Linked DNA regions of Homo sapiens. The protein of the gene in region 1 interacts with the protein of each later gene in a biochemical or structural test. Each region holds a gene or a part of one and is shown on either strand. Other genes may lie near its edges.

Region 1 (13,250 bases):
CCCAGCACTTTGGGAGGCCAAGGTGGACGGATCACCTGAGACCAGGAGTTCAAGACCAGCCTTGCCAACATGGTGAAACCCCATCTCTACTAAAAATACAAAAATTAGCCAGGCATGGTAGCACGTGCCTGTAATCCCAGCTACTCAGGAGGCTGAGGCACAAGAATCGCTTGAACCCAGGAGGCAAAATTTGCAGTGAGCTGAGATAGTGCCACTGCACTCCAGCCTGGCGACAGAGAGAGACTCTATGTCAAAAAAAAAAAAAAAAAAAAAAAGGCTGGGCAAGGTGACTCATGCCTGTAATCCCACCACTTTGGGAGGCCGAGGGAGGCGGATCACTTGAGGTCAGGAGTTTGAGACCAACCTGGCCCATATGGCAAAACCCTGTCTCTACTAAAAATACAAAAATTAGCCGGGCATGGTGTCACACGCCTGTAATCCCAGCTACTAAGGAGGCTAAGACAGGAGAATCACTTGAACCCAGGAGGCGGAGGTTGCAATGAGCTGACATCGCGCCATTGTACTCCAGCATGGGGGACAATAGCAAGACTGCGTCTCAAAGAAAAGAAAAGTCAAAAAGTAGGCCAGGCATGGTGGCTCACGCTTATAATCCCAGCACTTTGGGAGGCCAAGGCGGGCAGATCATTTGAGGCCAGGAGTTTGAGACCAGCCTGGGCAACATGGTGAAATCCTGTCCCTACTAAAAATACAAAAATTAGCTGGGCGTGTTGGCATGCGCCTGTAATCCCAGCTACTCAGGAGGCTGAGGCAGGAGAATCGCTTGAACCCGGAAGGCAGAGGTTGCAGTGAGCCAAGATTGCGCCACTGCACTCTAGCCTGGGGGACAGAGTGAGACTCTGTCTCAAAAAAAAAAAAAAAGAAAAGAAAAGAAAAAAAAAAGTAGCCAGGCCTGCAATCCCAGCTACTGGAGAGACTGAAGTGGGAGGATTGCCTGAGCCCAGGAGTTTGAGACCAACCTAGGCAACATAGGGAGATCCTGTCTCTAAAATAAAGGTATAAAAAAGTGTAAATGTAAAACCTCCATTTGCCTACTGCTGACTGAAAGGGGTACCCCCTTTTTTGCTTAAGAGACAAGGGTCTTGCTTTTTTGCACAGGCTGGAGTGCAGTGGTGCAATTATAGCTCACTACAGCCTTGAACTCCTGGGCTCAAGCGATTCTCCCACCTTGGTCCCCCAAGTAGCTGGGACTTCAGGCATGTGCCACCATGCCCAGCTAATATTTTTTATTTATTTTTGTAGAGACGGGGTGTCCCTATATTGCTCTGCCTGGTCTTAAATTTCCGGACTCAAGCAATCCTCCTGCCTTGGCCTCCCAAAGTGTTGGGATTATTGTTGGGGCCAGGCGCAGTGGCTCACACTTGTAATCCCAGCACTTTGAGAGGCTGATGTGGGCGGAACACCCCGTCTCTACTAAAAATACAAAACTTAGCTGGGCATTAGCTGGACCTGGGAGGCAGAGGTCGCAGTGAGCCGAGATTGCACCACTGCACTCCAGCCTGGGCTACAGAGTAAGAGACGCCATCTCAAAAAAAAAAAAAAGCTTGTTGGGGCCGGGCGCAGTGGCCCATGCCTGTAATCCCAGCACTTTGGGAGGCTGAGGTGGGCGGATCGCCTGAGGTCAGGAGTTCAAGACCAGACTGGCCAACATGGTGAAATGCCATCTCAACTAAAAATACAAAATTTGCTGGGTGTGGTGGCGTGCATGTGTAATCTCAGCCACTCGGGAGGCTGAGGCAGGAGAATCACTTGAACCCAGGAGGCGAAGGTTGCAGTGAGCCGACATCGTGCCACTGCACTCCAGCCTAGGCAAAAAGAGCGAAACTCTGTCTCAAAAAAAAAAAAAAAATGCTTGTTGGGGCCCAAGTTAATTGATTTCACAACTGCTGCCTTGGCATGAGATTGAGATGCGTCTCTATATCTCTGTCTCTGTCTCTGTGTCTCTGTCTCTGTCTATCTTTGTATCTCACACACAAATGTCCAGGTCTGAGCTCTGGGTCAGAACTGTGGTCCATTCTTTGCAAACTGAGGGTCCCCACTCTCCTGAGCCATTGGCCACTTGCCCACACCACTACCCAAGACCAGTCCCACCTCCGGACACGTCGACTCACTGTACACGGTGATGTTAGAGGAGCCTGTTATCTGAGAGCCATTGCAGTACACTGAGCAGAGGATCCGACTGTTGCCAGTCACGTTGCTGAGATTGAAGGCTGCCCAGCCCATGCCACTGGCCACCAGCTCCTTTGATAGGGACGTCTCCAAGGCGATTTTCTCAGAGCTGGGACAATCAGTACTGCAGTTCACAAACAGGGACCCTCCAGCAGAGAGCACAGGGTTCTGGGGCTCCACCCGCAAAAGGAACTCCTGCCCCTGGACACCTTCAGGAACATGAAGAAGTCCTGGTGTTTGTTTCCTTGTCCCCCAACCCACGCATCAACAGGCCCCACCATTTAACACCTCTCTCCTTGTGCCGAGACAGAAGGGTTCCTGCCTTCATGGTCCAGTGGGAAAGGTAGAATCCATCAGAGACCGGGGAGAACTCAGAAGGAGGCCAGAAGAGGCTCTGATCCAGCATAGGAGGAGGTGAGTCAGGGAAGGCTTCCTGGAAGCGGGGACCATTGCAGCCCGAAACTGAAGGCTAAGTAGGAGTTAGCAAGTGAAAGGGACAGGTGATCCTGGCAGAGGGAAGCACATACGCAAAGGGCAAATTTCAGGAGTTCAGATGGAGCAGGAAGCATGAGGGGTGTGTGTGTGTGTGTTAGGGGAGAGGGATGGCGTACAAGCCTATGCTGGGGCCTGACCACCTGAAGGCTGAACTAAGGAACCAGAACTTTCTCCCGAGGATACAGAGTCAGCGGCCAGGTCGCAGTGTGGCAGGATGTGAACAGCGTTGCGTTCTATTCCTCTACCCTCTACTGATCCCCAAAACGCAGCCCTCTCCAGCCCTCCCCGGCTTGACTGGTCTCACCTGGGGTCAGCAGACAGCAGACCAGCAGAGTCCAGCAGGCCCTGGGCCACAACACGGATGGTACCATGGTGGCCATTCTGACAGAGGAAGGTGCCTTCCTGAGGTGCCCGAAGGGCAGGCAGGGGAAAAGGCGGGGCCTCCCACTGCGACGGAAGCACAGCGGTTAAGATTGCAGAAGTCTGGGGACTGCACCTTGCCCAGGCCTGTGGGTGGAAGGGGATGCTGTGGCCCTTGGGGGCCAGGGTGGGGGACCCAGACGGGGCTCTGCAAAGTGGCCAGCACTGCTGAGTCTCCCCCAGGGAATGGGCTGGTCCCAGTTGCACTGCTGGCCCCCATTTGAATTCACAGGAAATGCTAACTAAACTGGTTTCTTTTGTTCTCAGCACTGGGAAGCCTGGGTGGGGGGGATGAGGCATCTCCTTCTGGCTGAACTTAGGTGGGTAGGGGAATATTCTGTCCCCAGAGAGGAAGTTAATGGGGAAAACTGTAGGCACCATTGTGTAGATGTTAAGGTGGGATTTCGAGGAAACATTAAAAAACAAAAACAAAAACAGAAACAGAAGCAGAGTCTTGCTATGTTGCCCCGACTGGTCTTGAACTCCTGGCCTTAAGATGGCCTCCTCTCATCTTGACCTCCCAAAGTGTTGCGATTACAGGCGTGAGCCACCACGCCTGGCCACCTTTGAAGATCTTGAGGATACCTCCCTATCTTTGAAGATCTTGGGGATCCCCCATCCCCTGCACAAAGAGCTAAGGTAGGTGATTTGGGGACAGCTGAGTCCCTGAGCCACTGTCTATCCAGGATTCTACTTGGTTTTTGTTTGTTTGTTTTGAGACAGAGTCTCACTCTGTCACCCAGGTTGGAGTGCAGTGGCGGGATCTCGGCTCACTGCAGCCTCTGCCTCCCGGGTTCAAACGATTTTCCTGCCTCAGCCTCCCGAGTAGCTGGGATTACAGGCATGTGCCACCACGCCCGGCTAATTTTTGTACTTTTTGGTAGAGACGGGGTTTCACCATGTTGGCCAAGCTGGTCTCAAACTTCTGACCTCAAGTGAGCTGCCCGCCTTGGCCTCCCAAAGTGTTGGGATTACAGGCGTGAGCCACTGCGCCCGGCCTTCCAGGATTCTACTTGTAACTGGCCTTTACCCCATCCTGTTGTCCCCTTGCCCACCCTTCCAGGCAGCTGGTCACTGCATTCCAAGGGAAGGCGCCAAGGGGACCAGGTGGGACCCCCACCTTTGACCTGCCTCTGACCTCAGGCCTCTGACCTGCCTTCTGGGCTTCACATCTGAGCTCCAGAGAGAGAGGCCTTGTTGAGAGCCTTGATGGGGCCCTGCACTCACCCACTTTCCCCAGACCTTGAGGTCACAGCACCTCCTCTCTCATCTAGAGCACCCCCACCTTCCTAAGCAGGTCCCTCCTCTATTCCTCTACCTTCCGAACAATCCATTTCCCACCTGGTGTTGAGAGAGCAGCTAAAACCCAAGTCTAGTGTATTTGTAAACAGCAGGGACCAGTAGCATGGGCCTGGTGCCTGTAGTCCCAGCTCCTTGGAAGGCTGAGGTGAGAGGATCGCTTGAGCCTGGGAGGTCAAAGCTGCAGTGAGTCGAGATTGTGCCCCTGCACTCCAGCCTGGGAGACACAGTGAGACCCTGTTTCCACAAAAAAAAAAAAAAAAAAAAAAGATGTCGGACTTACTGGCTCACGTCTGTAATCCTAGCAGCACTTTGGGAGGCTGAGGTAGGTGGATGACGAGGTCAGGAAATCGAGACCATCCTGGCTAACACAGTGAAACCCCATCTCCACCAAAAATATAAAAAATTAGCTGGGCATTGTGGCGGGCACCTGTAGTCCCAGTTACTCAGGAGGCTGAGGCAGGAGAATCACTTGAACCCAAGAGGCGGAGGTTGCAGTGAGTGGAGATTGTGCCGCTGCACTCCAGCCTGGGTGACAGAGCAAGACTCTGTCTCAGAAAAACAAACAAACAAACAAACATATATATATAATTTATAATACTTACGTAATAGTGAGACCCTGTCTCTAAAAATAAAAAAGAAAGAAATATTTGTAAATAAGTCATATTTCTTTTTTGTTTTTTGAAACAGAGTCTCACCGTGTCGCCTAGGCTGGAGTGCAGGGGCACAATCTCAGCTAACTGCAATCTCAGCCTCCTGGGTTCAAGTGATCCTCCCACCTCAGCCTCCCTAGGAGCTGAGACCACAGGTACACACCACTGTGCCTGGCTAATTTTCTGTAGAGACGGCTTTCACCATATTGCCCAGGTTGGTCTTGAACTCCTAAGCTTAAGGGATCTGCCTGCCTCGACCTCCCAAAGTGCTGGGATTATAGGCGTGCCCTGCTACACCCGCCAGTAATATTTCTGATAAAGAAGTATTTCTGGGCCAGGTGTGGTAGCTCACGCCTGTAATCCTAGCACTTTGGGAGGCTGAGGCGGGCAGATCACGAGGTAAGGAGATCGAGACCATCCTGGTTAACACGGTGAAACCCCATCTCTACTAAAAATACAAAAAAAAATTAGCCCCGTCTCTACTAAAAATACAAAAAAAAATGGTGGCAGGTGCCTGTAGTCCCAGCTACTCGGGAGGCTGAGGCAGGAGAATGGCGTGAACCCAGAAGGCGGAGCTTGCAGTGAGCCGAGATCGCGCCACTGCACTCCATCCAGGCTGGGCAACAGAGTGAGACTCCATCTCAAAAAAAAAAAAAAAGAGTATTTCTGGGCCAGGCGTGGTGGCTCACACCTGTAATCTTAACACTTTGGGAGGCCTAGACAGGCGGATCCCTTGAGGTCGGGAGTTCCAGACCAGCCTGGGCAGCATGCCAAAACCCTGTCTCTACTAAAAATACAAAAAATCGGCCAGGTGCAGTGGCTCACGCCTGTAATCCCAGCACTTTGGGAGGCCGAGGCGGGCGGATCACGAGGTCAGGAGATCGAGACCATCCTGGCTAACACGGTGAAACCCCGTCTCTACTAAAAAAAATACAAAAATTAGCTGGGCATGGTGGCGGGCGCCTGTAGTACCAGCTACTTGGGAGGCTGAGGCAGGAGAATAGTGTGAACCCGGGAGGCAGAGCTTGCAGTGAGCTGAGATTGCGCCACTGCACTCCAGCCTGGGCGACAGAGCGAGACTCCATCTCGAAAAAAAAAAAAAAAGTACAAAAAAATCAGCCAAGCTTGATGGCACACACCTGTAGTCCCAGCTACTCAGGAGGCTGCAGCGGGAGGATTGCTTGAGCCCGGGAAGTGGAGGTTGCAGTTAGCTGAGATTGTGCCCCTGCACTCCAGCCTGGGCGACAGAGAAAGGTCACCTACACATGTTTAAGGGGCCTCTGCACATATCTCAAGCCATTGACAAGAAAGCAAGTACAGTCTGGATTGCAAACAATGTATAATTTAAGCTCCAGCTGATTTTTTTTTTTTTTTTGAGACAGGGTCTCAGTCTGTCACCCAGGCTGGAGTGCAGTGGCATAGTCTGGGCTCACTGCAACCTCTGCCTCCCAGGTTCAAGTGATTCTCCCGCCTCAACTTCCCAAGTAGCTGGGATTACAGGCATGCACCACCACACCCAGCTAATTTTTTGCATTTTTAGTAGAGACGGGGTTTCACCATGTTGACCAGGCTAGTCTCAAACTCCTGACCTCAGGTGATCCGCCCGCCTCGGCCTCCCAAAGTGCTAGGATTACAGGCGTGAGCCACCGCGCCTGGCCTCCAGCTGATTTTTGACAGCCACATTGTTGCTATAGGATCCTTTTTACGTGTGATGGTGATGGTCTCTGGTTCTCCTCATTCCCACAAAGGTTGTTGAACCACAGCACCAGTAACACTGAGAATGCTAAGGGCTCTAGCCCAGGCTTTCTCCCAGGTTCTCTGGTGTGCGCCCTCCTGGTGACAATGAAATTGAAGCTAATTGCTTTCACTGGTTGAGTCTCTGATCTTGAGTGGCTGTGTCCACATTTCATTTTTTTTTTTTCTGGTAGGAATAACTACTTTTCTGCATCCATGCTCCATAGACTCTGTCCTTTTCAGACATCCTGGGATAAAAAGATTTGGCTTTTTTTTTTTTCTTCTTCTTCCTGAGACAGGGTCTGGCTCTGTCTCCCAGGCTGGAATGCAGTGACATAATCATGGCTCACTGCAACCTTGACCTCCCAGGCTCAGGTGATCCTCCCACCTCAGCCTCCCTAGTAGCTGGGACTATAGGTGTGTGCCACTACACTCGGCTAATTTTTGTATTTTTTCTACAGAGGAGCTTTTGACATATTGCCCAGGCTGTTCTCGAACCCCTGGGCTCAAGTGATCCTCCCAACTCAACCTCCCAAAGTGCTGGGATTATTACAGGGGTGAGCCACTGTGCTGGGCTTTCACTCTTAGGCTATTAAACAATGAAGGTAGTTATTGATCCTATCTCTTTCATATTCTTCTTCTTTTTTTTTTTTTGAGAATGAGTCTTGCTCTGTCTCCCAGGCTGGGCTCACTGCAATCTCCACCTCCCAGGTTCAAGCGATTCTCCTGCCTCAGCCTCCTGAGTAGCTGGGATCACAGGCGTGCGCCACCACACCCAGCTAATTTTTGTATTTTTATTAGAGACGGGGGTTTCACCATGTTGGTCAGGCTGGCATATTCTTCTTTCTAAGAACTGAGAGTGAGGGGGCTGTATTGAATCTCTTCATGCACCAGGAACTGAGTTCTGAAGATGATCTTATTATTATCAGTATTTTTTGAGATGGGTTCTCACTCTGTTGCCCAGGCTGGAGTGAGGTGGTTCAGTCTTGGCTCACTGCAACCTCTGCCTTCCAGGTCCAAGCGATTCTCCTGCCTCAGCCTCCCAAGTAGCTGGGATTACAGGCGTCTGCCACCAGGCTTGAGCTACCACGCCCAGCCAAAAGAGCATATATTATGTATAGAAATAATAAGACGAGCCAGGTGCGGTGGCTCATGCCTATAATCCCAGGACTTTGGGAGGCTGAAGCGGATGGATCACCTGAGGTCAGGAGTTCGAGACCAGCCTGACTAACATGAGGAAACCCAGTCTCTACTAAAAATACAAAAAATTAGCCAGACATGGTGGCTCGTGCCTGTAATCCCAGCTACTCAGGAGGCTGAGGCCGGAGAATCACTTGAACCTTGGAGGAGTTTGCAGTGAGCCGAGGTCACACCATTGCACTCCAGCTTGGGCAACAAGAGAGAAACAACGTCTCAAAAACAAACAAACAAACAAACAAAACCCAAGAAATAATAAGACCATTTGGAATTACTGGACTAATAGAATAGTTAAGGTTTCTTATAGAGGCAATAAAATGTATTTTGAAAGAGCTGCTAACTATTGATGCTGACAGTATTTCATTCCTGTGAGTGACTCAAGCATATTATAAATAGCTAGTAAAAGCCTGGCCAACATGGCAACTAAAAATACAAAAAATTCACCGGACGTGGTGGCGCATGCCTGTACTTACAGCTACTTGGAAGACTGAGGCCCAAGAACCGACTGAGCCCTGGAGGCCGAGGTTGCAGTGAGCCGAGATCATGCCACTGCACTCCAGCCAGGATGACAGAGGAGAGAGACTCCGTCGCAAAAATAAAAATAAATAAATAAATAAATACCTCGTAAAGGGAACGGAGCCTGTGGGGTTGAGCAAAATGTACTAGCTGTGCCTGCAGTGAGTATAACAGCTTTACGATTATGAGGAAACAATTTTTTCTTTTCTTTTTTTTTTTTTGAGATTAAGTCTTGCTCTGTCGCCCAGGCTGGAGTGCGGTGGCACGATCTCGGCTCACTACAACCTCCACCTCCCAGGTTCAAGTGATTCTCCTGCCTCAGCCACCCAAGTAGCTGAGATAACAGGCGCCCGCCACCACACCCAGCTAATTTTTGTATTTTTAGTAGAGACAGGGGTTTCACCATGTTGGCCAGGCTGGTCTTTAACTCCTGACCTCAGGTGATTCACCCACCTTGGCCTCCCAAAGAGTTGGGATTACAGGCATGAGCTACTGCGCCCGGCCCCAGCCAAAATTTTTAATAGCAATGCAGAAAAAGAAGAAAACATGACAGGCGCAGTGGCTCATGACTGTAATTCCAGCACTTTGGGAGGCTGAGGCGAGCAGATCACCTGAGGTTAGGAGTTCGAGACCAGCCTGGCCAACATGGCGAAACCCCATCTCTACTAAAAATACAAAAATTAGCCAGGCGTACTGGCCCCACGCCTGTAATCCCAGCTACTCAGGAGGCTGAGGCAGGAGAATCACTTGGACCCAGGAGGCAGAGGTTGCAGTGAGCCGACATCGTGCCACTGCACTCCAGCCTGGGCGACAGAGCAAGGCTCCATCTCAAAAAAAAAAGTCAACAAGACAAACAACCTAGTTTCATCCACAAATATGTTGCAAGGGGGCAAAAGACAGAAAGAGGAACCCACAGACCAAAAGAGACGTAAGAAAACTGGCCTCGAGCAAATGCAATTGGGGACTTTGTTTGTATTTTTATTTATTTTTATTTTTTATTTTATTTTATTTTTTGAGATGGAGTTTCACTCTTGTTGCCCAGACTGGAGTGCAATGGCACAATCTCAGCTCACTGCAACCTCCGCCTCCTGGGTTTAAGTGATTCTCCTGCCTCAGCCTCCTGAGTAGCTGGGATTACAGGCACACGCCACCGCATCCGGCTAATTTTTGTATTTTTAGTAGAGATGGGGTTTTGCCATGTTGGCCATGTTGGTCTTGAACTCCTGACCTCAGGTGATCCGCCTGCCTTGGCCTCCCAAAGTGCTGGGATTACAGGCGTGAGTCACTGTGCCCGGCCCTGTATTTTTATTTATTTTATTTTTTCAGAACTAAAAGAGACTTACAGAAAACTGGCCTCAACCAAACGCAATTGGGGACCTTGTTTGTATTTTTATTTTTTTATTCAGAACTAAAAATAAATGATCTATTGGGCGGGTGTGGTGGCTCATACCTGAAAGCCCAGCACTTTGGGAGGCTGAGGTAGAGGGATCATTTAAGCCCGGGACTTCATCAACCTGGGTAACATGGAGAAACTTCGCCTCTACAAAAAATACAGAAATTAGCTTAAGCGTGGGAGGCGGAGGTTGTAGTGAGCAGAGATTGCGCCACTGCACTCCAGCCTGGATGACAGAGCAAGACTCTGTTTCAAAACTATGGGGACAGTAAATAACAGATCAGCAGTTGCCAGGGGTTAGTGAGAAGAGAGGGATGAACAGGCAGCGCATGAATGACGTTTAGCGCAGTGAAACTACTCCATGTGATACTATATTGGTGGGTTCATGCCTTATACGTTTGTCCAGCCCCACAGAACGTACAACAGCAAGAGTGAACCCTCATGTAAAGTACAGACCTCAGGAGAAAATGATATGTCAGTGGAGGTTCATAGATTTTTTTTTTCAGACAGAGTCTTGCTCTGCCGCTCAGGCTGGAGTGCAGTGGCATGATCTTGGCTCACTGCAACCTCCACCACCACCTCCTGGGTTCAAGCAATTCTCTTGCCTCAGCCTCCTAAGTAGCTGGGAGTACAGGTGCCTGCCACCATGCCTGGCTAGTTTTTGTATTTTTAGTAGAGATGGGGTTTCACCATGTTGCCCAGGCTGGTCTCGAACTCCTGACCTCCCAAAGTGCTGGAATTACAGGCATGAGTCACCGAGGTTCATAGATTCTAACACATGTATCACTGTGGTACAGGATAGGTCAGCAAGGGAGGTTGTGCAGGGGGATGGGAGGGAGGGGATATAGGAGAACTCTGTATTTTCCACTCAACTTTGCTGTAAACCTAAAACTGCTCTAAACAAATTGAGTGGTTATCCTACTACTCAAGAGGCTAAGGTGGGAGGATCACTTGAGCCCAGGAGTTTGAGACCAGGCTGGGCAGCAGAGTAAGACGCTGTGTCTACAAAAAATTTTAAAATTAGCCAGATGGCCAGGCATGGTGGCTCACACCTGTAATCCCAGCACTTTCGGAGGCTGAGGTGGGTGGATCACCTGAGGTCAGGAGTTCGAGACCAGCCTGGCCAACATGGTGAAATCCTGTCTCAACTAAAAATACAAAAATCAGCCAGGCGTGGTGGCGGGCGCCTGTAATCCCAGCTACTGGGGAGGCTGAAGCAGGAGAATCGCTTGAACCCTGGAGGTGGAGGTCGCACTGAGCCTAGACCGTACCATTGCACTCCAGCCTGGGTGACATAGTGAGACTCCCTCTCAAAAAAAAAAAAAAAAAAAAAAAAAAATTAGCCAGGTGACGTGGCAGGAGCCTATAGTCCCAGCTCCTACAGAGGCTGAGGTGGGAGGATCACTTGCGCCTGGGAGGTCAAGGTTGCCATGGGCTATAATAGCACCACTGTACTCCAGTGTGGGTGACAGAGCGAGACCCAGTCCCCAGCCCCACAAAAGAAGTCCTTCTGGGGATATTTAACTGCCTTTCACAAATGTGTCTGACCCACCATCTCAAGTCACACAGGCTAAGTAGAAACGCTTTGCCAAACACCAGAATAACAATAATACCTTTTTCTTTTCTTTTTTCAGACAGTCTTGCTCTATCGCCCAGGCTGGAGTGCAGTGGTGCGATCTCAGCTCAATGCACTCTGCCTTCCAGTTCAAGCAATTCTCCTGCCTCAGCCTCTAGAGTAGCTGAGATTACAGGTGTGTGCCACCACACCTGGCTAATTTTTGTATTTTTTTCCTCAACAAGAACAAACTTGGTAAATAACGATGATTGTTCATGGTTTCAGACTCCTTTTTTTTTTTTTTTTTTTTAAGTTCCAGGGTACATGTGCACAATGTGGTTTGTTACATAGGTATACATGTGCCATGTTGGTTTGCTGCACCCATTAACTCATCATCTACATTAGGTATTTCTCCTAATGCTATCCCTCCCGCAGGCCCCTACCCCACAACAGACCCCGGTGTGGGTGTGTGTTGTTCCCTGCCATGTGTCCAAGTGTTCTCATTGTTCAGTTCCCACCTATGAATGAGAACATGCGGTGTTTGGTTTTCTGTCCTTGTGATAGTTTGCTGAGAATGATGGTTTCCAGCTTCATTCGTGTCCCTGCAAAAGATATGAACTCATCCTATTTTATAGCTGCATAGTATTCCATGGTGTATATGTGCCACATTTTCTTAATCCAGTCTATCATTGATGGACATTTGGGTTGGTTCCAAGTCTTTGCTATTGTGAATAGTGCCGCAATAAACATACGTGTGCATGTGTCTTTTTTTATTTTTTTTTGAGACAGAGTTTTGCTCTTGTCACCCAGGCTGGAGTGCAATGGCTTGATCTTGGCTCATGGCAACCTCTGCCTCCTGGGTTCAAGTGATTCTCCTGCCTCAGCCTCCCAAGTAGCTGGGATTACAGACGCCTACCACAATGCCCAGCTAATTTTTGTATTTTTAGTAGACAAGGGTTTTGCCATGTTGGGCAGGCTGGTCTCAAACTCCTGACCTCAACTGATCCGCCCGCCTTGGCCTTTCAAAGTGCTGTGCTGGGATTACAGGCGTGAGCCACTCTATCCAGCCAACTTCATTTTTAAAATTTTTATTTTAAAATAATATAGGCTAGGTGTAGTGGCTCACGCCTGTAATCCCAACACTTTGGGAGGCCGAGGCGGGCAGATCACCTGAGGTCAGGAGTTTGAGAGCAGCCTGACCAACAAGATGTAACCCCGTCTCTACTAAAAATACAAAATTAGCCGAGTGTGGTGGCGTGCGCCTGTAATCCCAGCTACTCCGGAGGCTGAGGCAGGATAATCGCTTGAACTCAGGAGGGGGAGGTTGCAGTGAGCCGAGATAGCACCATTGCACTCCAGCCTGGAGAACAGTGAAACTGCCTCAAAAATAAATAAACAAATAAATAAATAAATAAAAATACGGACAGGATCTCCCTATGTTGCCCAGGCTGGTCTCGAACTCCTGGACTCAAGGGATCCTCCTGCCTCAGCCTCCCAAAGTGCTGGGGTTACAAGCAATGAGCCACTGCATCCAGTCAACAATAATATTGTATATTTATTTATTTAATTATTATTTTTTTGAGACAGAGTCTTTCTCTGTCACCCAGGCTGGAGTGCAGTGGTGCAATCTCGGCTCACTGCAATCTCCGCCTCCTGGGTTCATGACATTCTCCTGCCTCAGCCTCCCGAGTAGCTGGGACTACAGGCACCCGCCACCACGCCCGGCTAATTTTTTTGTATTTTTAGTAGACGGGGTTTCACCGTGTTAGCCAGGATGGTCTCAATCTCCTGACCTTGTGAT
Region 2 (16,270 bases), on another chromosome or scaffold:
GTCGCCCAGGCTGGAGTGCAGTGGCGTAATCTTGGCTCACTGCAACCTCCCGAGTAGCCTCCCGAGTAGCTGAGATTATAGGCTTCTGCCACCATACCCGGCTAATTTTTGTATTTTTAGTAGAGATGGGGTTTCACCATGTTGGCCAGGCTGGTCTCGAACTCCTGACCTCAGGTGATCTGCTTGTCTCAGCCTCCCAAAGTGCTCGGATTACAAGCGTGAGCCACTCCGCCTGGCTGTATTTGCTTTCAATTTCTATCTCCACATCTCTCCTTTCCAATTTCTGTCTTCTGATCCTCTTTCACCACAATCTGTTTTCCAAATCTCTCCTCTCAAACCTTTCCCATCACCTCCCTTTGACTTCCGCCACTCCCATCTCTCTGGCCAGCGGGTTGCTGGAAAGATGAGCAAACGGAGGGACAGACAGATTGAGTCCTTGCCCACGGCCTCGTGGCTCATACGTGGAGGAGTCAGAATTGGAACTAGAGATTGATTGAATGAATGACACTCGGGTCACCAGGACACCCTTCCAATCTCCACTCCTACATCTATTTCTTAGCAATCATCTCCCGACTCCTACCTCCTCTTTTCAGGCTCTTGTTGGTGACATCTGTTCACAGCTCACCCCTTCTCTCCCTTTGCCACCATCCTACCTCCATATTCCCCTTGTTACTTATTTCCAACTTCTTCCCCCATCTTCCAGCCTGATTCACCCTTTTCTCTTCTGGCCAGCGGATTGCCAGCTCCCAGCTCTCCCCCAGGCTGCAGTATTTTGGGCAGGCGCTGAGTGGGGGTCAGGACCTCACCCAGGATGGACTGATGGACCTGGCCGTGGGGGCCCGGGGCCAGGTGCTCCTGCTCAGGTAGCGACTCCCCAACATCCTGCCCTCCCGCGCTGTGTCTGATTCACCGGTGCTGCCTCCCCAGCCACGTTATCCTCCCAGAAGCCAGTGTTCTGTCCTCCCCACTACTCTGCCCCTCAGGAGTCTGCCGGTGCTGAAAGTGGGGGTGGCCATGAGATTCAGCCCTGTGGAGGTGGCCAAGGCTGTGTACCGGTGCTGGGAAGAGAAGCCCAGTGCCCTGGAAGCTGGGGACGCCACCGTCTGTCTCACCATCCAGAAAAGCTCACTGGACCAGCTAGGTGTGTTTCCCCCATAAAGGGGGCCCAGGCCCCTCATTCCATTAGGGGCCCCAATGCCATCCTGAGGATGGGATGGGCCTAGGAATCCAATCTTACCTCCACATTCACTCACCACCTGTGCCAGAAACCTGGCTCATTCTCTCCCCTCTTCCTCACACCTGGGCCTGTGGATTCTGTCTCCAGGGCTGACCTGAAGTCCACCCAGTTCTCTCCTGGGCCCCAGCCACTGCCTTCCCCCAGCCCCTGATTCCCTTCCACCTACACCAAAGTCATGACATGAAGCAGTTCCCACATCTCTTCTTGCACCCTCCCACCCATTTTCCACAGAGGAACTAGAGTCGACTGGTCCTAAAATGCAAATCTGGGCTCCTCACTCCCCTGCGTAACCCGCCTTGCATTTACAAAGACTCCAGTCCTTCCCTCCAGTGCCCTCTCTGACTTGGCCTCCTGGCCTCTCTGACCTCATAGCATCCCACTCCTCCTTACTAGGCACGCTTTTCGTAAATGCACCAGCTTTGCTCTCCCTTCTGGTCTTAGGCCCTGTTCCCATGGTCCCGGATGTTCTCCCCACTCCTCACCTGGCTCCTGCTCATTCTCCAGGTGGCTGCTTAGCCATGGTCCATCCGGGATGGCAGCCTGGCCAGGTCCAGCAAGCATGCTCTCCTTAGAACCACAGGAGAGCCTCCCCTCGCACTGATCACGCTGCAACATCACGTCCCATGTGCTTGGCTTCTTTCTTAGATTGTGAGGTTCATGAGAGTGGGGGCCATATCTATCTAGCTAGCTAATCTATCATCTATCTGCCAAATCTGTCATCTATCTATTATCTATTAATCTAATCACCTATCTAATCTATCATCTATCTACCAATCTATCACCTATTATCTATCATCTATCACCTATCTAATCTATCCTCTACCAAATCTATCATCTATTATCTATCATCTGTCTATCTAATCTGTCACCTATTTAATCTATCATCTATTTATCTATTATCTAGCCATCCATCCATCCATCCATCCATCCATCCATCCATCCATCATCTATCCGTCCATCTATCTTCTTCACATGTATCCCCAGCACGTGGTACAGTTCATGGCCCATAGCAGTGTCCAGCAAACATGTATTGCATGAACAAATAATGAAAACAGAGCATTCTAGGTTATTTCTGCCTTTTCATTTTGCACTCTCCCCTGCACTTCAGGTGACATCCAAAGCTCTGTCAGGTTTGATCTGGCACTGGACCCAGGTCGTCTGACTTCTCGTGCCATTTTCAATGAAACCAAGAACCCCACTTTGACTCGAAGAAAAACCCTGGGACTGGGGATTCACTGTGAAACCCTGAAGCTGCTTTTGCCAGTGAGGACTTTGGGTTCTGGGAAGGGGGAGAGAGGAGGAGCCCAAGGCTGGCCTGGAGCACCCCCGTTCTCTGCTGAGCGAGGTGGGAAGGGTTAGGATGTTGGGGCTGGAGAGAGGGACATTAGGGCAGGAGAACCTGGCTCCACGGCTTGGAGGGAGCACTGTCAGGGCAGTGGGGAGTGGATGCAGTGGAGGAGGACTTGTGGTGGAGCGTAGAGAGGACAGCAGGTTCTTGAAAGCCTGTTCTCTCTCAGGATTGTGTGGAGGATGTGGTGAGCCCCATCATTCTGCACCTCAACTTCTCACTGGTGAGAGAGCCCATCCCCTCCCCCCAGAACCTGCGTCCTGTGCTGGCCGTGGGCTCACAAGACCTCTTCACTGCTTCTGTGAGTCTTCTGATGAAGTCCCAGGGATGTGCTGACTTCATTTTGTCTCCATGAGCTTAAGAATCCACTGTAGCTCCCCAACACCCAACCACATCCAGTCCAGAAACCTGACTCCAGTCTCTCCCTTCCTCCTCACACCCAGGCCTGTGGGTTCTGTCTCCAGGACTGACATGAAGTCCACCCATTTCTCCTCCTGGTCCCAGCTGCTGCCTTCCCCCAGCCCCTCGATTCTCTCCCACCTACACCAGAGTTGACACGAAATGGTTCCCATATCTATTGTTGTATCCTCCCACCCATTTTCCATAGAGGAGCTAGAGTCGACTGGTCCTAAAATGCAAATCTAGGCTCTTCACTCCCCTGCGTAATCCCCCTTGCATTTACAAAGATCCCAGTCCTTCCCTCTGATGTCCTCTCTGACTTGGCCTCCTGGCCTCTCTGGCTTCACGGCATCCCACTCGCCCTTACTAGGCACGCTTTTCATAAATGCGCCAGCCTCGCTCTCCCTTCTGGTCTTAGGCCCTTCTCCCACCTCCATCCACACACCCAGGAACTGTACACATCCTAGGCAGTTCCCACTTTTCCCTAGCACAGACTCTCTTGTTCATTCCCAGATCCCTCCCAAGTTTCCTCATTCCTACCTCTGTGCCTTTGTCCCTGTTTCGCCCCTCACTTGGAAAACAGTGCCTTCTGCCTTCTCTCCCCGTTTTCCCCCGAAGCTCCAGCCTTACCTCCCTCTCTTCTGAAGGCCACACTCAGCATCTGCCGCTCCTTCTCTGGTCCCTGTTACACCAAGGTGGTGCCACAGCAGATATCACATGGCTGTTATAACCATCTGCATCTACATTTGAGGCTGTCTTGGGACTGTAGTTTCTTTGAGCATAGGAACCATGTCGAATTTGCCTGTCATTTCCACCTTCCCCCAGCCCTCGCCCAACCCAGAACCTGCACAATTATTGGCACTTAATAATGTTTGTGGAATAATTGTTCCAGGATAAGCTGGATGTAACTCAACTGAACTTTATGTCCCTTGAAGCCAAGGATCTTGTCTTATCTTTCTTTTATATGCCAACCTCCAAACCGCACCTGCGCCCCTTGTTGGTGTCCAGCAAAGTGCTGGGGGCAGTGGCTTAGTAATGCTCAATGTTGGAGAGTGCTTCTAAGGAGGGGCTTGGAGAAAGACTAAGATGTCAGATGGGAACAGAATATACTATTTTGCTGCAGCTCCCCTTCGAGAAGAACTGTGGGCAAGATGGCCTCTGTGAAGGGGACCTGGGTGTCACCCTCAGCTTCTCAGGGTGAGCTGTAACTCCCTTCATATCCAGACACTCAGGCTTCTGAGTCCCCCATCCTCCTGGGATGCTTGTGCTGCTCTCTGGCTCTTTCTAACAAAAGTGATGTTCACTGGATTGTTATTGGCCCAGAGCTCCAGAGTTCCTGGGATTCTGCCCTGCCCTTCCCAGTTCCCACCTATTTCCAGTGGAGCGCCACTCCCAGCCTCGTCCTTCCCCTTCAGCCTGCAGACCCTGACCGTGGGGAGCTCCCTGGAGCTCAACGTGATTGTGACTGTGTGGAACGCAGGTGAGGATTCCTACGGAACCGTGGTCAGCCTCTACTATCCAGCAGGGCTGTCGCACCGACGGGTGTCAGGAGCCCAGGTAACAACTGCTGTAGGCTCTAGTGGGAGGGGGCCTCTCCCCTGCCCTGTAGCCCCGGGAGTTACACAGTGTTCTTCAAAATTGTTCTGTGATGATATGTGCTCTCTCTCTCTCTCTCACACACACACACATACACACAGAGAAAGTGCATAAAGCATACATACGGTTTAATGAATAATATTAAACAAACCATAGAGTTAACATCCAGATCAAGAAATAAATCACTGCTAGCATCCCCAGAACCCCCTCCCTGTTTACCTTTCCCCATCACAGCTCCATCCTGTCCCCAAAGGTCATCACTATTCTGACTTTGTGGTCATTTCCTTGTATCTCTCTCTCTCTCTCCTTCCCCCCTCCCTCCCCCCTCCCTCCCTCCCTTACTTCCTCCCTCCCTCCCTCCCTCCCTCTTTTTTTTGAGACTGAGTCTTACTCTGTCACCCAGGCTGGAGTGCAGTGGCACAATCACCACTCACTGCAGCCTAGACCTCTTGGGCTCAAGCAATCCTCCCACGTCAGCCTCCCAAGTAGCTGGGACTACAGGTGCATGCCACTACGCCCAGCTAATATTTATTTATTTATTTATTTATTTATTTATTTATTTATTTATTTTTTAGAGACAGGGTCTCACCATGCTGCCCAGGCTGGTCTCAAACTCCTGGGCTCAAGTAATCCTCCCACCTCAGCCCTTAAAGTGCTGAGATTACAGGTGTGAACCACCACACCTGACCATATTGTTTCTGTGTGTGGGTCTTATTTAAGAAACACTTCCAGGTTATGAAAATAGCCCCCTATATTATATTCCAAAAGCTTCATGGTTTTGCTTTTTCACATTTAAGTATTTAATCCAGTTGGAATTTATTTTAATTTATGGAGTGAGGTAGGGATCCAATTTCTTTTTCTTCTTTCTCCTCCTCTTCCTCTTGTACTTTCTTTACTTTTCTTCTGCTTTTTAAAAAATTTTTTGTATGGGTCAATTTTCCTGGCATTGATGGAAATTGATTGAAAAGTCTGTCCTTGGCCGGGTGCAGTGGCTCACACCTGTAATCCCAGCACTTTGGGAGGCCAAGGCGGGTGGATCACCTGAGGTCAGGAGTTTGAGACTGGCCTGGCCAACATGGTGAAACCCCATTTCTACTGAAAATACAAAAATATTAGCCAGGCATGGTGGCAGGCACCTGTAATCCCAGCTACTCAAGAGCCTGTGGCAGGGGAATTGCTTGAACCCAGGAGGTGGAGGTTGCAGTGAACCACGATCATGCCATTGCACTCCAGCCTGGGTGACAAGAGTGAAATCCGTCTCAAAAAAAAACAACAACAAAAAAAGAAAAGTCTGTCATTTTCCCTAGTGCTCTGCAGTGCCACCACTGCTGTGTATCAAGCCCACACATGCATGCGGGTAACTTCTTAAAATTCATTCTCCTCCCCTAGAAGCAGCCCCATCAGAGTGCCCTGCGCCTGGCATGTGAGACAGTGCCCACTGAGGATGAGGGCCTAAGAAGCAGCCGCTGCAGTGTCAACCACCCCATCTTCCATGAGGGCTCTAACGTCAGTGCTTCTCCCTAAATCCCCATCACTGTCCTCCCTTGTCCCAATCTGTCCCTCACTCTGCCATGCCCTTCCTTTTATCCCCATTCTTTCCTTCTTCTTCCCTCAGGGCACCTTCATAGTCACATTCGATGTCTCCTACAAGGCCACCCTGGGAGACAGGATGCTTATGAGGGCCAGTGCAAGCAGGTGGGTCCAGGCCAGGGTATCCCCCACCCTCCATCGCATGCCCCGGCTAGAGACCCCTCTCCTGGATTCCTTCCCATTGGTCCCTCCTTTCTGTCTCCAGTGAGAACAATAAGGCTTCAAGCAGCAAGGCCACCTTCCAGCTGGAGCTCCCGGTGAAGTATGCAGTCTACACCATGATCAGCAGGTGCCCAGTCCCTGGCCTTCCCCTTGGACCTCTGGCCTTCCTCTATGCCTGGTACTCCTTCTGAGTCCCAGCCTGCTCTTCCAATGATGCACATCTAAGCTCTCCTGTTTTGGGATGCCTTTGTGGGTGAATGGCCATATATAATGACATTTATGCTGCATAAAGATGTTTCTGGGCTGGGCGCGGTACCTCGCGCCTGTAACCCCAGCACTTTGGGAGGCTGAGGCAGGTGGTTCACCTGAGGTCAGGAGTTCGAGACCAGCTTGGCCAACATGGTGAAACCCCATCTCTACTAAAAATACAAAATAAATTAGCTGGGCGTGGTCATGCGTGCCTGTAATCCCAGCTACTTGGGAGGCTGACGCAGGAGAATCACTTGAATCCGGGAGGCGGAGGTTGCAGTGAGCCGAGATCATGCCACTGCACTCCAGCCTGGGTGACAGAGGGAGACTCTGTCTCAAAAAAAAAAAAAAAAAAAATTAGCTGGGCCTGGTGGCGCATGCCTGTAATCCCAGCTACTCAGGAGGCTAAGGCAGGAGAATCTCTTGAACCTGGGAGGCGGAGGTTGCAGTGAGCTGAGATTGTGCCACTGCACTCCAGCCTGGGCAATAGAGCAAGATTCTGTCTCAAACAAAAAAAAAAAAAAAAGGTGTTTTTGTCAACAGTGGACCCACATTTACTACGGGTGGTCTCCTAAAATTATAACGGAGTTGAAAAATCTCCTAATGATGTCATAGCAGTTGTAACATTGTAGTGCAACTCATTGCCTTTTTTATGTCTAGATACACAAATACTTTCCATTGTGTTACAATTGCCTACAATATCCAGTACAGTAACACGCTGCATGGGTTTGTAGCCCAGGAGCAATAGGCTATACCATATCACCTAGCTGTGCAGTAGGCTCTACCATCTAGGTTTGCATAAGTGCAACCTATGATGTTTGCACAATGATGAAATTGCCTAAGGCCGGGCGCAGTGGCTCACACCTGTAATCCCAGCACTTTGGGAGGCTGAGGCAGGCGGATCACCTGAGGTCAGGAGTTCAAGACCAGCCTGGCCAACATGGCGAAACCTTGTCTTTACTAAAAACGCAAACATTAGCCAGGCGCAGTGGCACACGCCTGTAATCCCAGCTACTGGGGAGGTTAAGGCAAGAGAATCGCTTGAACTTGGGAGGCGGAGATTGCGGTGAGCTGAGATCGCGCTGCTGCATGCCAGCTCAGGGGTGACAGATTAAGGCTCTGTCTCAAAAAAAAAAAAAAAAAAAGAAAAAAAAAGAAAAGAAAAAGAAATTGCCTAACGATTAATTTCTTGGAATGTATCCTTGGTGTATTTGTACCCTAATAATATATACCATAGCTCTTGCTGCTTCTCTCAAATCGACTTGCTGGTGGGACACACACACATTGCCACCACTGTGCCTTTCCCCCTCTCCCTCTAAAAGGAAGGCTTCCTTTTTTAACATGAAACAAATTCTGTCCTTTGTATTAAATGTGAATGTGCTGAAGCAAAGCTGCTACATGGAGATCAAGGCTTTTCTGAGCACCCTGAATTGGGGAGCTTGTGCCCAACAGGATATGGTCTGTCACCACACAGAGGAAAGGAAAGGTCAGGTTTCTATAAAACTCAGAGTGGGGCAGAGGTGTGAGAAACTGTTGGGAAGGTCTCTTAAGAGCCTGGCCAAGGCAGCGCAGGAAAGGCAAGTGTAGGGCTGAAGGCAAGAGGGTTCTGCAGGTGGTGGAGGCACAGGGGCAGGCGAGGCTGGATGCAGAGCAAGGCATCCCATACACTGGGCTGAAAGACTGTAACACTGCTGTGGGACAAAGTTTGCTGCTATTGCTTTTTTTTTTTTAGACGGAATCTCACTCTTTCACCCAGGCTGGAGTTCAGTGGTGCAATCTGGGCTCACTGCAACCTCCACCTCCCAGGTTCAAGTGATTCTCCTGCCTCAGCCTCCCGAGTAGTTGGATTACAGGCATGCACAACCACATCTAGCTAATTTTTTGTTTGTTTGTTTGTTTGTTTTTGAGATGGAGTTTCACTCTTGTTGCCCAGGCTGGAGTGCAATGTTGCGATCTCAGCTCACTGAAATCTCCGCCTCCCAGGTTCAAGTGATTCTCCTGCCTCAGCCTCTCGAGTAGCTGGGACTACAGGCATGTGCCACCATGCCTGGCTAGTTTTGTATTTTTAGTAGAGACAGGGTTTCACCATGTTGGTTAGGCTGGTCTTGAACTCGTGACCTCAGGTGATCCACCCCCACCCGAGGGCCTCCCAAAGTGCTGGGATTACAGGCATGAGCCACCACACCTGTCCACTGTTGCTTCTGATGTATTAAGTTGTTAGGGGAAGGAGCGAGGGAGATCAAGCAGTGTCATTGTCCTTTCAAGCCACATGTAGGTTTCCCTTTCTATCCACAGGAAAATACTTACAATAAGAGCTTACAGTTATATATACCCATGTCAGGCACGTTTTATGTTGCTGTTGTTTTATGGTGGTTTTCTTACACCATCTTAAGTACTTTATATGTATTTACATTTATTTAATCCTACCAATAATTATATTGTTATCCCTATTTTCACCAACAAAGACATCAAGAAGTGAAATACTTTGTTCCTGTCAATCTCCAAGTGGGCAGCAGAACCAGGAATCAGACCCAGACGGTTTGGCTGCAGAGCCCATGCCCATGGCCATACATGGCATGCCTCTCCAAGGACTGGGGAAAGCTGGGTGGTTTACTTAGATCTGAAAACAGGCTTAGGCTGCGCACGGTGGCTCGTGCCTGTAATCCCAGCACTTTGGGAGGCCAAGTGCTGGGATTACAGGCATGAGTGGGAGGATGGCTTGAGCCCAGGAGTTTAAGACCAGCCTGGGCAACATAGTGAGAACCCATCTCTACCAAAAAAAAAAAATTAAAAATGAAAATAAAATAAAACTTTAAAAATGAAAAGAGGTTTAGAACTAGATTTTAAGATGAGAAAACAGAAGCATAGAGAGAAGGGTTTGGGGTGGGGGGCACAGAGGAAAACCGGCATACTTAGGGAAAAATAAACCTTAAGATTTATGGAGGAGTCCCTGTGTGCTGGGCACTACCAAGCCCTGGTCACAACTCTACTACAGGGAGGTTGCTACGGTTTGCATCCCCATTTTAAAGAGTGAAAAGCTACAGTTTCCAGAGACGTGAAGTGGCTTGCCTCAGTGACTCAGGTAGGAAGTGGTCGACCTGAGATGTGAACCTAGGCGGTTTGACACTGGAGCCCATGTTTTTAGTCATCAGGCTGATGGGGGGTGGACTGCTGGGGCTGTTTCTGTGTGGCTGGTCTGGCTGCTGCATGCGAGGTGCAGGCCCCTCTGCTGGTCTGCTTACTTTTGCTTTTTGTTTGTTTTGAGACAGGGTCTCACTCTGTCACCCAGGCTGGAGGGGAGTGGTGTGAACATAGCTTACTGCAGCCTCGACCTCCCAGGCTCAAGCAATCCTCCTGCCTCAGCCTCCTGAGTAGCTGGGACCACAGGCGTGTGCCACCACTTGCAGCTAATGTTTGTATTTTTTTTTTTTTTTGCAGAGACGAGGTCTCTCTGTGTTGCCCAGGCCAGTCTTGAACTCCTGGGCTCAAGCGATTCTTCTGCCTTAGTCTCTCTAAGTGTTGGGATTACAGGCGTGAGCCACCTCGCCTGGCCAGCTTGCTCATTTTTACTAAAACTTTAGATGTTAAGTGGTGAGAGGGCAGGGAGTTATGGCTTAACTTGAATCCCCAGTGCCAACCACACAGCCTGTGTTTGCTGAAGGAAGTTTGGGTGGAAAGACCCCACCTGCTGCCTGGAACACTGATGTCCCTTCCACAGGCTTGTGCACAGGCACTATCTTCCTTCACATTTACTCACCTGCCCCAGGACAGCCGAATCTATTTTCTTCATTCCCACCATGAAGGGGCCCTCACTCCATGTCTTCCTGAGTGATCCAGCTCTCATTCCTAGAGTCCCCTTAGGCTAACTTGTTCTGCTACAATCTCTGTAAGCATTACCAGAGGCCAAACACTACCTATTAGAGAAAGCAATGCAAACGCCTTTGCCCCATGTAGGAGACATGAGGTTTAAGTTGGGTCTTTAAGTGTAAATTTCCAAAACTGGAGACAGTAAGAACGTTCCAAGGAGAAGAGCTTGAGCAAAGTCATGAGGCTATGAAAGAGCCAGCGGTGTGCATGGCAGAGCTAGTGGATCTGGGTGATGGGGGCAAGGGACATCGGAGGGAGGGGAGCTGAAGCCGAGGCAGCAAAGGTTATGTGGGACCATCTTTTACTTATTTACTTTGAATAGGGACAGGGTCTCACGATGTTGCCCCAGCTGGTCTGGAACTCCTGGGTTCAAGAAACCCTCCTGCCCCAGCCTCCCAAAGTGCTGGGATTACAGGCATGAGCCACTGTGCCCGGCCAAATAATGTCCATCGTTATTTCCCTGAGACATCTGCCCAGCCCAACAGAGCTCTCTGCAGTAGGACAGGGCACAACTGGGGACAGTTTCAGGGCTGTTTTTCACCCACAGGCTCTCTCTCCAGGCAGGAAGAATCCACCAAGTACTTCAACTTTGCAACCTCCGATGAGAAGAAAATGAAAGAGGCTGAGCATCGATACCGTGTGAGAGTCTAGGGAGTATCCATGTCTGCCTTCCACGTTGTGGATAAAGTTGGAAGTTGGTGGAGAAGATGGAGAGGAGCCTTGGGGTAGGGCCAGGAGGGAAGTAGGATTTGGAAGGCTCCAGAGACCACAATAACACTCTGCCTTGATTTCCTGCAGGTGAATAACCTCAGCCAGCGAGATCTGGCCATCAGCATTAACTTCTGGGTTCCTGTCCTGCTGAACGGGGTGGCTGTGTGGGATGTGGTCATGGAGGCCCCATCTCAGGTACCCGCCTATCTCTCCTCTTTCTTCAGACTGACATCCCACAGCACAGCACTCCCTCTTACCAGGGACATGTTGCTCATTCTGTGGCTAAGTGCTTCTTTCTCTTCCCAGAGTCTCCCCTGTGTTTCAGAGAGAAAACCTCCCCAGCATTCTGACTTCCTGACCCAGATTTCAAGAAGTCCCATGCTGGTGAGAAAGTCCCTGAACCCCCACCGCCAAGATCAGCCCCCACCGGGGATACTGGGAAATGTACTGCTAGGCCACAGAGTTCCGTGCATGTCCTGTAACTGCTCATCTGTTCCCCACCCCAAACCTGACCATATTTTTTCCTATGGCTCCCTCCTCAGGGAAGAACCCCTCAGTTTCACCCCTCTTCTGCCCCCAGGACTGCTCCATTGCTGACTGCCTGCAGTTCCGCTGTGACGTCCCCTCCTTCAGCGTCCAGGAGGAGCTGGATTTCACCCTGAAGGGCAATCTCAGTTTCGGCTGGGTCCGCGAGGTGTGTGGGGGCAGCGGCAGAGCCCCTGCCCCAGACTCAGGCAGGACCTGGCATGTCTGTGCCCATCTGCAAGCCAGGGCACCCCCGAAGCTCTGAGCCTCCCCCAGAGCCAGTTCCACAGGTTTCCCCCAACCCCTTTGCAGACATTGCAGAAGAAGGTGTTGGTCGTGAGTGTGGCTGAAATTACGTTCGACACATCCGTGTACTCCCAGCTTCCAGGACAGGAGGCATTTATGAGAGCTCAGGTAGAGACCATGTGGAGGGCAGCGACCAGCTGGAAAGAGGACCCCTAGGGCTACATCTGTGGTGCTGGGTGGGGGGTTTGCAAGCCTTGCGGGAGGAGGGTGAAAGTCTCTGGGCAGGACAGCTGTCCCTAAGGGCACGGGTGCTACTGTGTCTCACTCCTTGGAGCAGAGCCTCAGAAAGGAGGGGAGAGAGTTAAAGGTTGCGGAACCTGGGAGGCATCTGGGATGGCATGAGGCCGGATGCTCTCTGATCTCTAAATCAGATGGAGATGGTGCTAGAAGAAGACGAGGTCTACAATGCCATTCCCATCATCATGGGCAGCTCTGTGGGGGCTCTGCTACTGCTGGCGCTCATCACAGCCACACTGTACAAGGCAAGTGTTTTATCCAACTCTTTTTTTTTTTTTTTTGAGATGGAGTTTCCACTCTTACTGCCCAGGCTGGAGTGCAATGGCATGATCTTGGCTCACTGCAACCTCCACCTCCCGGGTTCAAGTGATTCTCCTGTCTCAGCCTCCCGAGTAGCTGGGATTACAGGTGGACTGCACCATGCCCGGCTAGTTTTTTGTATTTTTAGTAGAGATGGAGTTTCATCATGTTGGCCAGGCTGGTCTCGAACTCCTGACTTCAGGTGATCCGCCCACCTTGGCCTCCCAAAGTTCTGGGATTACAGGTGTGAGCCACCTCATCCGGCCTTATCCCATTCTTGACACCACCAGCATCCAACCCAAGCCCTCCTACAGACTGGCTGATATAGTGAGAACTCAGACTGTGGAGGCAGACAGGCCTGGACACACATTTTGGCTCTATCATGTACTCACTGTTTAATGTTAGGCAAGTTGCTCCACCTCTCTAAGCCTGTTTCTCTCTTTCTTTTTTTTCTTTTGAGATGGAGTCTCACTCAGTTGCCTAGGCTGGGGTGCAGTGGCACAATCTCAGCTCACTGCAACCTCCACCTCCTAGGTTCAAAAGATTCTCATGCCTCAGCTTCCCAAGTAGCTAGGACTACAGGCACACACCACCACACCTGGCTATTTTTTGTATTTTTAGTAGAGAGAGGTTTCACCATGTTGGTCAGATTGGTCTCAAACTCCTGACCTCATGTGATCCGCCCACCTCGGCCTCCCAAACTGCTGGGTTTACAGGCATGAGCCACTGTGCCCGGCCGTTTCTCATTTTTGAAATGATAATAATGCTTATATCACAGAGTGGCTGAAGTGAGAGAGAAATGAGGCCAGGGCATGTGCACAGATCTGCCTGGATCTATGCTGTCCTGCCACGGGTCGTGTGTGTACCTACTGTGCTCGGGGCCAGCAGATGCTCGATATATGATAGCTGTTCACATAAATGTTCTCGCACACAAACGTAAGTTAGCTTAGTTGTTGCCTCCTCTTCTCTCTCAGCTTCCTCTTATTCCCAATTTTCTTCCCTGCCCTCTTACCCAGCTTTTCTTTCTTTTCTTTCTCTTTTCTTTTTCTTCTTCTTCTTTTTTTTTTTTACATGGAGTCTTGCTGTCTTGCCCAGGCTGGAGTGCAGTGGCATGATCTTGGCTCACGGCAACCTCTGCCTCCCGGGTTCAAGCGATTCTCTTGCCTCAGCCTCCTGAGTAGCTGGGATTACAGGCGCACCACCACACCCAGCTAATTTTTGTATTTTTAGTAGAGACGGGGTTTCACCATGTTGGCCAGGCTGGTCTCCAGCTCCTGACCTCAGGTGATCCACCCTCCTCAGCTTCCCACAGTGCTGAGATTACAGGTGTGAGCCACCGGGCCCGGACTTACCCAGCTTTTCTAATTTATTTCCCCTGATAGCTTGGCTTCTTCAAACGCCACTACAAGGAAATGCTGGAGGACAAGCCTGAAGACACTGCCACATTCAGTGGGGACGATTTCAGCTGTGTGGCCCCAAATGTGCCTTTGTCCTAATAATCCACTTTCCTGTTTATCTCTACCACTGTGGGCTGGACTTGCTTGCAACCATAAATCAACTTACATGGAAACAACTTCTGCATAGATCTGCACTGGCCTAAGCAACCTACCAGGTGCTAAGCACCTTCTCGGAGAGATAGAGATTGTAATGTTTTTACATATCTGTCCATCTTTTTCAGCAATGACCCACTTTTTACAGAAGCAGGCATGGTGCCAGCATAAATTTTCATATGCTTAAGAATTGTCACATGAAATGAGGATGTTTATAGCACACTTTCCTTGCGTGGAAGAGCTATAACCCAGGGACCTGAGTGCCTCTCTGGGAATAGTCGGGGGAACCTATTTGTGGGCATTGAAAAAGTTTTTTCACTTTCTATGGTGATGGGAGCCTGAGGTCATCTTTTCTTGATGGGGCTGAGAGGTGTGTATCAGGGGAGAGGGTCAAAGAGTGTGTGTGTGTGTGTGTGTGTGTGTGTGTGTGCATGTGCATGCACGTGCACGCAGGCATGCATTGGTCATGGGTTTCTTCACACACTTCAGGTTCCTCTGTAATGGTAAGTGGGCAGGCTGTCCTAGGAGGTGAAGAAATGTCCAGAGCTCATTTGAACTCCTGTCCCCCTTGAATGAGGTACTCAGAAGCCAGGAGAGCCAGGCTAGGAGCATGTGATTTCCCATATAGAAGACTCATTAAGAAAGATTATAGGCCGGGCGCGGTGGCTCACGCCTGTAATCCCAGCACTTTGGGAGGCCGAGGCGGGTGGATCATGAGGTCAGGAGATCGAGACCATCCTGGCTAACAAGGTGAAACCCCGTCTCTACTAAAAATACAAAAAATTAGCCGGGCGCGGTGGCGGGCGCCTGTAGTCCCAGCTACTCAGGAGGCTGAGGCAGGAGAATGGCGTGAACCCGGGAAGCGGAGCTTGCAGTGAGCCGAGATTGCACCACTGCAGTCCGCAGTCCGGCCTGGGCGACAGAGCGAGACTCCGTCTCAAAAAAAAAAAAAAAAAAAGAAAGAAAGATTATAGAGAATTATCAAAAGATTCCAAATCCAGCATTAGGTCCCAAGGCCTCACACACAGGACTGTGGAGCCTCCGTCTGAAATCCAGAGAGCTGGGATTCACAGACACCAGCAGCTCAGGTGTCAGGCAAGAAGTGGGACTTCAGGATCTGCAGCCCTGGGCTCCCATGGGGGCTCTGCCGAGCTGCCGGAACTTGGACAAGTCATTTAATTCCCAAGAATCTCAGGTCTTCCTCGGGAGAAGGTGAACTAAATTTATACCCTGCTCCCAGCGTTACTGTGAGGATTCGGTGTACGCGGAAGCCCATTACAGCCTAGAGCCCTAATTATTAATAGGTGTGTGTGAGAGGGAGGCCTCATTATTACCAGGTGAGAGACAGGGAGCTGGGATCGCCTACCTGTGAGTGGAGGAGGCTCCCTCGAGCACCTCCGTATCAGCGGCGTGGGAAAAGCACGTGGAGCGCCCACCGCGCTAGGCGCATGCGCGGAGCAGGAGCGCTTACCAAGCTGGGCGCATGCGCGGAGCGGGCGCCTCTGGGCGCGCTCCCCGTGGCCCCGCCCTCCCCACAGAGCCGCAGACTCGAAGCTTCACACCTTTATTGTGTCCGGGGGCGTCCGGGGCCTCAGGGGTGTTCGTAGCCCGTGGGCAGAGGGTTCACGTGGCTATTGTGGAACAGAGTGTGGTTGCCGTCCCCCCAGGGGTAGGGCTGTGGAGAGAGCGGGGGAGGGAGCGCGCGTGAGCGCCGTGAGTCCGGAGTCCGCGCCCCGCGCGACCCCCCCCCCGCAGCACCCCCCCCCGCCCCCGCAGCACCCCCCCCCGCCCCCGCAGCACCCCCGTGCCGCCCGCGCGCCCGTCCCGCGTACCTTGGTGCGGATGCGGAGGTGTTGGTAGGGACGGAACTCGGGGCGCGGGCGGTGGCCCGAGTGGAGATAGGAGTTGAAGGTGCAGAGGGCCACGCTGGGCAGCGCCAGCACGAAGGTCAGCAGACGCCAGGTACGAGCTGCGGACGGAGCGGGGTGAGCGCGGCGGTCCTGGGGCGGCGGGCCTGTGAACAGGTGGGCAGGGTAGGGGAGCCCCCGGATCCGCCCGTTCCCCACTCACCTCCTGCTCCTCCGTGGCCTCCTTTGGCAGCGCTGGCCAAGCCCCGGGTCAGGGGCCTCAGAGGCAAAGCCATGATGGTGCGGGGAGCCGGGAACCAGCGCTGTCCTCGCTCCCTTTCCTGGG

Evidence for each region.
Region 2: the proteins of ICAM3 (region 1) and ITGAD form a complex in vitro, tested with the Homo sapiens proteins (one study listed by BioGRID).

Annotation. Positions count from the first base shown.
Region 1 is NC_000019.10:10,336,553-10,349,802, forward strand, and holds the start of ICAM3 (intercellular adhesion molecule 3 isoform 1 precursor), read right to left. Parts: upstream 3,073-13,250; 5' UTR 3,063-3,072; coding exon 2,987-3,062; intron 2,694-2,986; exon of another isoform or gene 2,397-2,693; coding exon 2,130-2,396; intron 1-2,129. UniProt on the Homo sapiens protein: ICAM proteins are ligands for the leukocyte adhesion protein LFA-1 (integrin alpha-L/beta-2). ICAM3 is also a ligand for integrin alpha-D/beta-2. In association with integrin alpha-L/beta-2, contributes to apoptotic neutrophil phagocytosis by macrophages.
Region 2 is NC_000016.10:31,412,106-31,428,375, forward strand, and holds the end of ITGAD (integrin alpha-D isoform 2 precursor), read left to right. Parts: intron 1-732; coding exon 733-863; intron 864-983; coding exon 984-1,141; intron 1,142-2,345; coding exon 2,346-2,500; coding exon of another isoform or gene 2,501-2,582; intron 2,583-2,754; coding exon 2,755-2,886; intron 2,887-3,992; coding exon of another isoform or gene 3,993-4,046; exon of another isoform or gene 4,047-4,078; intron 4,079-4,107; coding exon 4,108-4,181; intron 4,182-4,399; coding exon 4,400-4,541; intron 4,542-5,969; coding exon 5,970-6,086; intron 6,087-6,195; coding exon 6,196-6,275; intron 6,276-6,375; coding exon 6,376-6,459; coding exon of another isoform or gene 6,460-6,510; intron 6,511-11,008; coding exon 11,009-11,087; intron 11,088-11,246; coding exon 11,247-11,354; intron 11,355-11,465; coding exon 11,466-11,543; intron 11,544-11,739; coding exon 11,740-11,853; intron 11,854-11,996; coding exon 11,997-12,098; intron 12,099-12,361; coding exon 12,362-12,472; intron 12,473-13,305; exon of another isoform or gene 13,306-13,463; intron 13,464-13,909; coding exon 13,910-14,023; 3' UTR 14,024-14,400; and 1 more. Other genes in the region: COX6A2 (cytochrome c oxidase subunit 6A2, mitochondrial precursor), read right to left, coding at 15,669-15,752, 15,910-16,046, 16,148-16,220.